Linked DNA regions of Homo sapiens: regions 1 and 2 are each reported to be linked to region 3. Evidence: microRNA targets listed by miRTarBase, many of them from high-throughput screens and not tested one by one. Region 3 holds a microRNA gene; each other region holds the end of a gene's coding sequence.

Region 1 (3,064 bases), not on the chromosome of region 3:
TCCATTCATAATTCAAAGGCCGTCAAGCCCGAGTTGTAAGACCATTTTGACTCTGAGAATCTTTTCTTTTTACCAAGGAAATCCCTTGCAGTCATGGTTTAGTGTCCTGAATTAAGAAATAAAAGGAACAGGCCGGGCGCGGTGGCTCACGCCTGTAATCCCAGCACTGTGGGGGGCCGAGGCGGGTGGATCACGACGTCAGGAGATCGAGACCATCCTGGCTAACACGGTGAAACCCCGTCTCTCCTAAAAATACAAAAAAACAGCCGGGCGTCGTGGTGGGTGCCAGTAGTCCCAGCTACTTGGGAGGCTGAGGCAGGAGGATGGCGTGAACCCGGGAGGCGGAGCTTACAGTGAGCCGAGATCGCGCCAGTGCACTCCAGCCTGGGCGACAGAGCGAGACTCTGTCTCAAAAAAAAAAAAAAAAAAAAGAAATAGAAGAAACCAAATTAATTTTTAATTTATACTCCACTTATATATGTTTTCAATCATCCACTACTGCAGGATGTACACTGAACAGTACAACTCATATGCATCATTTTCACCAGACAACCTCATCTACCAAAATGGTGATAACACAATCTTATTTTGAAGCCAAAAGAGAGTTATAAACATCAATCGTTTTCAGATACGCTTTAAAAATATTTCTTTAAGTTTGTTCAAAAGTAACATCATTATTTTAAGTTATAGCACAATCATTAAAGGAAAAAAGAACCCAAGAACAAATGAAATTCGTTATTATTTTAGTCACTTTTAGTGGAAAAAATAAAACAAGATTTGGATTTTCATCCAGCATAAAGTAAAAAGACTCTTGTCAGATGTCAATTTTCTCATTAATGAACTACTTGAGACTGTACTCCTGGGTCAACTTATTTCTGCTTCTCCTGTCTCTAGACCTGTCTTAATTATATTTGTGTCTCAGGATCCATGACATAGATTTAAAGAGACCCATGGGCAAATCTAAACAGTGACCACACAGTGTCCAGTCTATTCGTTTCTCTACAAAGTGACAGAAATTCAACCTGTAATCAGTAGAAGTTGATTCTACCTAAATTCCTAATATAACTAATAAAATGTAGTCACCTTCAATAAAATAAATGCCCAGATACTATTTTAAAGGATACAGCAAATCCAAGTCATACCTCTACCAAGGCTAACTATGCTGTACCTTAATTTGTTTGTTCTCAGAGCTAAAATCAGTGCTTCACTTAGATTCTCCTTTCCTAAAGAGTCCGTCAACTCAGAAGAAATGCCTAGTTCTTGATGCAGACTCATCATTAGTCAATCTTGGTCTTGGATATTCATCCTTCTAATAAGCATGATTGATAACAATCTTGCTAATAAGCAATAGTAATATCAATCTTGAATATTCATGCTTCTAATAAGATTGGAAGAATACCACTTGGGTACTTGCATATAACTCCTACTACCTACATACTCCACTCCTTACAAGCTAACAACGCCTTTATTATTATTATTATTATTATTTTGAGACAGAGTCTTGCTATGTTGCCCAGGCTGCAGTGCAGTGATGCAATCATAGTTCACTGCAGCCTTGAATTCCTGGGCTCACGTGATCCTCCTGCCTCAGTCTCTTGAGTAGCTTGGATGACAGGCATGCACCACCACATCTTGCTAATTTTTATAGAGATGGGGTCTTGCTATGTTGCCCAGGCTATTCTTGAACTCCTGGGTTCAAGTGATCCTTCTGCCTTGGCCTCCCAAAGTGCTGGGATTACAGGCATGAGCCACCATGCTCAGCCTAACAGTGCCTTTAAAAACCTCCTGGGCTACATTGAAAACCTTATTATCACATGTCAACTTATTTTGAAGCAAGTTTGCTTATAATTTAGTAAAGTCCTTGTAAAACTTCTTGTTTCTCTCCACTGTCACTCAGTTTTCTGAAAACTTTAAGTAGAAGCAAGGCCTTGGCAACAAGATAACTCATCACATGGTTCAAAGTATATCTGTGCAATGGATCAAATTTACCTATTATCTTGCACACTGCTCTCAGTTATAACCTGAGAACCAGAAATTATCCCCTCACTTTATAAAAATACCGTTTTAAAAGATTATTTAACAGCATAATCTTTTTAAATCAATGTGTAATACTGAAAAACACTATACATGTATTTTATCTCTCTGGGGTTAAAAAAAAGTCTGAGGTGTACTGAAGGGTACTTTCTGTTGCTTCTTCAGATCTTGTATATTAACATTTAAGCACAAATACCCTTTGTCAAGTGCTTTCAATGCCAGAATCTGTGCTTATTCAAAAATGAAAACAAAACAACCAAATAATTAATAGTCTCTGCAGACCAAAGCGTAAATGGATTAACAAATAACACTGAATGCAAATTCAGGTAACCATATCAAACCAAGAGGAAAGAATGTGGTTCATCTTTTGGAGGAGTTGTCTAAAAGGATCCAATCAATCACAACCTCTCTTTTTCTCTGCAATGATACACCAGTTACCATGATCATTCCCAGAACTCAGGATACGGAGCTCTGACACATTCTCCTTGAGCAGACTGCAGAGCTCCCCTTCTCGAAACACATGGTAGTAGCGCATAAAGGCTGTGGAGTCCAAAACATCAGTCTGTGGATCTTCGACAGACATTGTATCATCTGGGTTGAAATCTGTGGAATCAACTGCAGAAATCCTTCTCAATATTTTACTAGCAGAAGGATTATCATCTTCTATGTTGCCTGCATCCACACAATTCACACCAGTATTAGTGCTATCCAGAAAATTTCCCCCTCCATTTCTCCTCATTTCCCCTTGATGGTCTCCATTTAAATGTTTCAGAGTGCCTGGTGCTCTCAGCCACTCCAAGTGTTTTCCAGAAGAAGATTCCACAAACACTTCCTCATCTAAACTTTGCCCTTTTGTTGAAAATGGCTCTTGGTGATCAAAGTCTAAACTAGAGTGTCTGGAAGGCTGGACTGTTACAGTGCTACTGGCCCAAACTTCTGTGTTTTTCAAGGGTCTTACTCTTTCAATTTGCTTCCTCAGAGTCGATTCATCCAAAGATCTGGAGAAAAACCAGGAACGAAACGATTTTCC
Region 2 (3,064 bases), not on the chromosome of region 3:
GGCTGGGCATGGTGGCTCACACCTGTAATCCTAGCACGTTGGGAGCCTGAGGCGGGCAGATCACCTGAGGTCAGTAGTTTGAGACCAGCCTGGCCAACATGATGAAACCCCATCTCTACTAAAAATACAAAAATTAGACAGGTGTCGTGGTGCCTGCCTATAATCCCAGCTACCCGGGAGGCTAAGACGGTAGAATCGCTGGAACCTGGGAGGCAGAGGCTGCAGTGAGCCGAGATCACGCCACTGCACTCCAGCCTGGGCGACAGAGTGAGACTCTGTCTCAAAAAAAAAAAAAAAGTGCCAGAACATAGTATCTTTCACCAGTGTGTGGTGGCAAGGCAAGGTTACCTAGAGGTTGGGCTTGGGCTCCTGGGTTGTGGTGGGCTGCAGTGGACCTGACAAAGTCTCCTCTGTCACTTCAGGGGTACCCGTGCTCCATCTCATCTCCACGCCCTTCCCTGCTGTCTGGCACACCCCTGCGGACACCGAGGTCAATCTCCACCCACCCACGGTACACAACTTGTGCCGCATTCTCGCTGTGTTCCTGGCTGAATACCTGGGGCTCTAGCGTGCTTGGCCAATGACTGTGGAGAGGACTGTGAGAGAGAAGGTCCCAGCGGGGGCCAGTGAAGCTCAGGCAGGATCTGCCTAGGGTGTGCTGGTTTGTCCTTTTCATACCTTTGTCTCCTAATTGTGCTACAATTGGAAGACCTTCTTTCTTTTGATTGTCTCAAGCTGCCACCCTTCAAGGACAGGGAAGAGACCACTGTGGGATGACAGCCAGAGGAATAAGAACTTGCTCCCTCCCCAGAGGTAAACACTTGGTCCAAAGGTTTGCAGGGACCAAATACTGTTCTTTTTTTTTTTGAGACGGAGTCTCACTGTGTTGCCCAGGCTGGAGTGCAGTGGTGCGATCTCGGCTCACTGCAAACTCCGCCTCCTGGGTTCACGCCATTCTCCTGCCTCAGCCTCCCAAGTAGCTGGGACTACAGGTGCCCGCCACCACGCTGGCTAATTTTTTGTATTTTTAGTAGAGACGGGGTTTCACCGTGTTAGCCAGGATGGTCTCGATCTCCTGACCTTGTAATCCGCCAGCCTCGGCCTCCCAAAGTGCTGGGATTACAGGTGTGAGCCACCGCACCTGGCAAAATGCTGTTCTTTAAGTCAGCGAACTGAAAAAGTAAAAGACTGCTGGGTGTGGTGGCTCACACCTGTAATCCCAACACTTTGAGAGGCTGAGGGGGAAGGATCACCCGAGGTCAGGAGTTTGAGACCAGCCTGGTCAACATGGCGAAACCCTGTCTCTACTAAAAATACAATAATTAGCTGGGCATGGTGGTGGGCGCCTGTAATCTCAGCTGCTTGGGAGGCTGAGGCAGGAGAATCACTTGTACGCAGGAGGCGGAGGTTGCAGTGAGCCAAGATCACACCACTGCACTCCAGCCTGGGCAACAGAGCGAGACTCCATCTCAATAAATAAATAAATAAATAAATATTTTTTAAAAAGAGTAAAAGACTAAAAGACTATTACTGGTCTGGCCCAGTGATGCCACCCAGCTAGATGAATTCTCTGTGGTTTGTGTTGTGTCAGTTCATTCTCCAGAACAGCAGCCTTGCTACTGCACCAGTCCTAACCTAACTCCCACACGGGGCACACAGAGGATGTCCTCATAACCAGGCACAGAGGAGACAGAAGCTCATATTTTGGAAGTCCAGATTCTTCCAGACCCAGTGGGTAATAAGCCATTGTTTCTGGCTGGGCATGGTGGTTCACACCTGTAATCCCAGCTCTTTGGGAGTCAGAGGCAGAGGGATAGCTTGAGCTCAGGAGTTTGAGACCAGCCTGGGCAACAGAGCATGACCCCATTCTCCAGAAAAAAGAAAGAAAAAAAAAAGCGTAACCAATGTTTCTGCAAAACACCACCTGCATAAGCCAGGTGTGGTGGTGCACACCCTGTAGTCTCAGCTATTCAGGAGGCTGAGGTGAGAGAATCCCATGAACCCAAGAGTTCAAGACCAGCCTGGGCAACACAGTGACACCCTGTCTCAAAACAAACACCACCACCACCAACAACAACAAAAAAGGCCATTCTGTAGAACTCGTGTAAATAGACATTGCATGACAAGGGGGATCTGAAATCCAAGAAGAGGGTGAGACAACATAAAATGAGTTTCCTCACTGCATCATGTGAATTTTTAAGACAGAACCCAGAGGCTCCCAAAGTATTTCACTATGGAACACTTTTTATTGGGAAGCACTTCATAGAACTAGGATACTTCGGCCGGGCATGGTGGGTCACACCTGAAATCCCAGCACTTTGGGAGGCCGAGGCCAGCAGTTCAGCTGAGCTCAGGAGTTCGAGAGCAGCCTGGACAACATGATGAAACCCCATCTCTACTAAAAATACAAAAATTAGCCAGGTGTGGTGGCATGAGCCTGTAATCCCAGCTACTTGGGAGGCTGAAACAGGAGAATTGTTGGAACCTGGTGGCAGAGGCTACAGTGAGCCAAAATCACGCCACTGCACTCCAGCCTGGGCAATAGAGCGAGGCTGTCTCAACAAACAAACAAAATACAACAACAACAAAAAGAACTAGGATACCTCAGAAGGTACTTTGGAAAACATGGGGTTTTGAAAGTCTGAGAGCATCTATGAGAGGAATGGGTAAGACAGATCTAGATTTACCGCAGAGTAGTTAGGGCACACTGTCTTTCCCCTTCAGCTGTTGGTACAGCACTGTGAGATGGCAGTGTAACTGCAAACTCCAATGAGCAAGTATTTCCCAACCCTACCTAATTTTCAGACTCAGCTGGGGTGCTCATTAAAAAATGCAGACTGGGTGCAGTGGCTCATGGCTGCAATCTCAGCACTTTGAGAGGTTGAAGTGGGAGGATCACTTGAGCCCAGGAGGTTTTTCTTTTTGAGGCGGAGTCTCGCTCTGTCACCCAGGCTGGAGCGCAGTGCTGCAATGCTGGCTCACTGCAACCTCCGCCTCCCGGGTACGAGCGATTCTCCCGCCTCAGTCTCCCAAATAGCTAGGACTACAGGTGCGTGCCACCACG
Region 3 (3,076 bases):
AAAGCAGCTGGGGGCACAGATGTGGGAGCAGGGGGAAGAGGCTGGGGGCCTCCTCGAGGAGAGAACACTGGGAGAGGGTAGGGCTGGACAACCGCTGGGAAGGGGGTAGTGGCTGGTGGGGTGGGCCAGGGGGTGGAGGGTGGCACGGGTGAGGGGTGTGAGACATAGCAGGGCGCTTCAGCCCGAGGGTTCTGGTGGTGGCGTGAGCGCTTGGCTTTGGATCGGCAGTGGTGTCGGCGGCTTGGGGGTGCGGGGCCGTGGTGGCAGCCTGTGGGGAGAGACTAGGGTTAGCAAGGACCTCAACCTGGGGTTAGTACCCCTGCTACCCACACTGCCCTGACACGCTGACCAGGGAGAGGACAGGCCAAGGTCCCAGAGAGAGCTTCTCAACCCACACAGAACGGGGGACTCAGGAGGTGGGGCACCTTCAGGGAAGAATCACAGGAGCCAGGGACAAGGGGATTTATTGAGAAAGGAACAAGGCCAGGGAGAGGTTACACGAGGGGTCGAGCTGGGGGTGTGCGGAAGATGGAGGCATGCTGGCAGATGGAGGAAGCAGGGTGAGTCCATGGACACATGGACAGATGGCTCTGGTCCGCCAAACTCCTGTGGGCACTGCCAGCCTAGGCATTCCTCCTGCCCATCGAGGCCGTATTCTGCCTAGCTTGCAATGGAGTGAAGAGTGGGGCTGGAAAGCCCAGTCCTGAGTCCTGCGTCTGCCTGCAGGGGATCTCCCTCAGGCACCTGGAGGGGCTGCCTTCCACCTGCCCTTGAAGCCCAGACCCCACCCAGAGTTGGCCCAGAATCTATGCATGTCTCTTCATCAGTGACAACTGACTCCTAAGTGGGCATACTTCCTGCCCCTGCCCCCAGGCTAGGCCTGAAGTCGCTTACCTGGAGACAGCACCTCTGCCTGCCCATCCCAGTGCCATCCCCCCAGGCTGCCCTCCTCTGGCTGCAGCCCGGAACCCCATCCTAGTGGGGAGAAGCTAGCGAGGGGCCTGTCCCTAGGCAGGGCCTAGTGGTGGAAGCAACACCAGCCTGGGTCCCTGGAGCAGAAACACCTCCCTTAAGACCCACCCCCCAACAATCCAGTCCTAGACTGGGCAGAGGGCAGGCTCCAGGAGGCCCCAGGTGGCTACCTCGCTCGCCAAGGGCTGAGGGAGCTGTGGAAGAGCTGTCGAGTCCACGCAGCCTGCCCAGGTCTCGGAAGCGGCTGAGGAAGGCTTGCTCTTCCTTCTGTGTGTGCAGGGACAGCACGGCCTTGGTCAGCCCCACTGGACGGTAGGCGTCTGGGGCTGGGTCAGGGGCTACTGTGGGGCTGGGGGCTGGGCTGGGGGCTGGGCCTGGGGCTAGGCCAGGCAGGTCCTCCATCATGATGATGTCTGAGGAGAGTGAGATAGGGAAAGGTCATCAGAACCACTTCAGGGGTCAACACATCCATACCACACCCTCCCTGTCTGATAGCCTAGCCAACCCCTGGCAGCTCTGCCCCACAGCCAAGCCTGGTCTCCATGTACGTTTCTTGGTCACCTCTCTGCCAACGGCTGGCCCTGGGTCCTCCTCTCCATGCAAAGCTGGCCCAGAAGAAGAGACGATACTCAGGCCCCTCCAGTGGCCACTCCCTGCCAGGAACTCTACTGGGATGACCCCGTCACAACTCTCATTGGAAGAGAAGCCCACCCCTTGGCCTTCCCTCACACATTTTCTTGTTTCTTTTTTTTTTTTTTTTTGACATGGAGTCTCACTCTTTCTCCCAAGCTGGAGTGCAGTGGTGCGATCTCAGCTCACTGCAACCACCACCCCCTGGGTTCAAGCGATTCTCCTGTCCCAGCCTCCCGAGTAGCTGGGACTACAGGCGCGCGCCACCACGCCCGGCTAATTTTTGCATTTTTAGTAGATACAGGGTTTCACCATGTTGCCCAGGCTGATCTCGAGCTCCTGATCTCAGGTGATCCTCCTACCTCAGCCTCCCAAAATGCTGGGATTACAGGCCTGAGCCACCATGCCCAGCCCCTCATGATTTTCAAGGTCAATATCCAAAGACCCTTCAGGGATGTTCAATTTTCCTTGCCTTCAGACCCTGTGTGGTCAGCACCTCAGGGCAAACCCTCTATCCCAGACTCTGTGTTTCAACTGACAGTAACAATACGAGAAGCAGAACAGGGGAAGGGCAAAGCCGAGAAGCCTGGCAGGGAGGGGAGAGCAAGAAGCAGTAGCCCCAAGCCCCAGGTCAAGGGAGGCCTCCTTCTCTCCATCAGGCCCTAGAGGGGAGGGGAAAGGCAGGAGGGAGCTCTAGCTGGGAGACCGGTGGAGCCCAAGCACTGCCCCCCAATTCCACACCCATACCCGACTCCGGGGGCTTCTTGTCTCCCACATGGACGATGGTGGAGCTGAAGCTACACTGACTGGTGACGGACACCACACTCTCCGCCTTATTGGCCAGGGCGAGCGGGCTCAGGGTGCCTCCCACCACTGGCTCCTTCCGTGGGGTGGCCCCCTCCCCAGACAGCGCTGCTGACGGCGGATCTGTGCAGAGAGATGGTGCCAGTTACCATCCCCACCCCCACTGGGAAGTCAGGAGAGAGGATCCCAGGGAAAAGGGGAAGGGGATGGTGGTAGGGAACAGAGGGAACAGTCTGGAGACCAGGAGGCTGGGGAGGAGAGCAGGGCAGAGCAAGAGGGCCCAGAAGCAGAAGGGAAAAGACACAGGGCCACCAGGCCAGGACGGGGCAGTGGGAGCAGGGTGCATTGGATCTTTACCTTTCTTGGTCCCCACAGAGACTGGACCTGTCCTCTGCCTGTCGTCGTCAGAGGCTGAGGAGGTGGTATAGGAGGAGGAGGAGGCACATTTACGCTTAGTGGTGCTGGGGAGGTTGCAGCTCTCCAGGTACCTGGGGATGGACACAGCACAGGGCATCAGAGCAGGGCTTGGGGTGGGCAGGGTTAGAGCCCGAGGTGGAGAAGATGCCTGGCAGGCCTTACCTGAGGATGCTGTCCAGGCAGTTGATCTGCTGGTAGGAGCAGCTGGAGGCTTCTTTCCTCTCGGCCTCCTCAGGGACCAAGGCTAGTGGGG

Evidence for each region. The annotated mature microRNA hsa-miR-6883-5p reads AGGGAGGGUGUGGUAUGGAUGU and lies in region 3 at 1,437-1,458, opposite strand. An mRNA with a match to its seed (bases 2 to 7 or 8) in the 3' UTR can be bound and repressed. Matches are read on the target gene's strand: a 7mer-m8 pairs with bases 2 to 8, a 7mer-A1 pairs with bases 2 to 7 and ends in A, and an 8mer does both.
Region 1: the mRNA of TRMT9B is a reported target of hsa-miR-6883-5p. Seed matches in the 3' UTR shown: 7mer-A1 at 304-310.
Region 2: the mRNA of QPCTL is a reported target of hsa-miR-6883-5p. Seed matches in the 3' UTR shown: 7mer-m8 at 802-808, 7mer-A1 at 969-975 and 7mer-A1 at 1,102-1,108.

Annotation. Positions count from the first base shown.
Region 1 is chr8:13,021,409-13,024,472 of GRCh38, reverse strand. TRMT9B (tRNA methyltransferase 9B (putative)) reads right to left here. Exons shown (of 5, transcript NM_020844.3): 5 at 1-3,064. The coding sequence ends at 2,429. All of the region lies in intron 3 of LOC124901889 (a long non-coding RNA gene), which reads left to right. Among named protein-coding and RNA genes, the nearest start is that of TRMT9B, 77 kb to the right of the region's middle.
Region 2 is chr19:45,702,482-45,705,545 of GRCh38, forward strand. QPCTL (glutaminyl-peptide cyclotransferase like) reads left to right here. Exons shown (of 7, transcript NM_017659.4): 7 at 423-1,506. The coding sequence ends at 568. Among named protein-coding and RNA genes, the nearest start is that of QPCTL, 11 kb to the left of the region's middle.
Region 3 is chr17:8,143,609-8,146,684 of GRCh38, forward strand. MIR6883 (microRNA 6883) reads right to left here and starts at 1,463; the gene lies at 1,386-1,463. PER1 (period circadian regulator 1) reads right to left here. Exons shown (of 23, transcript NM_002616.3): 15 at 2,986-3,076; 16 at 2,764-2,894; 17 at 2,350-2,529; 18 at 1,143-1,385; 19 at 1-268.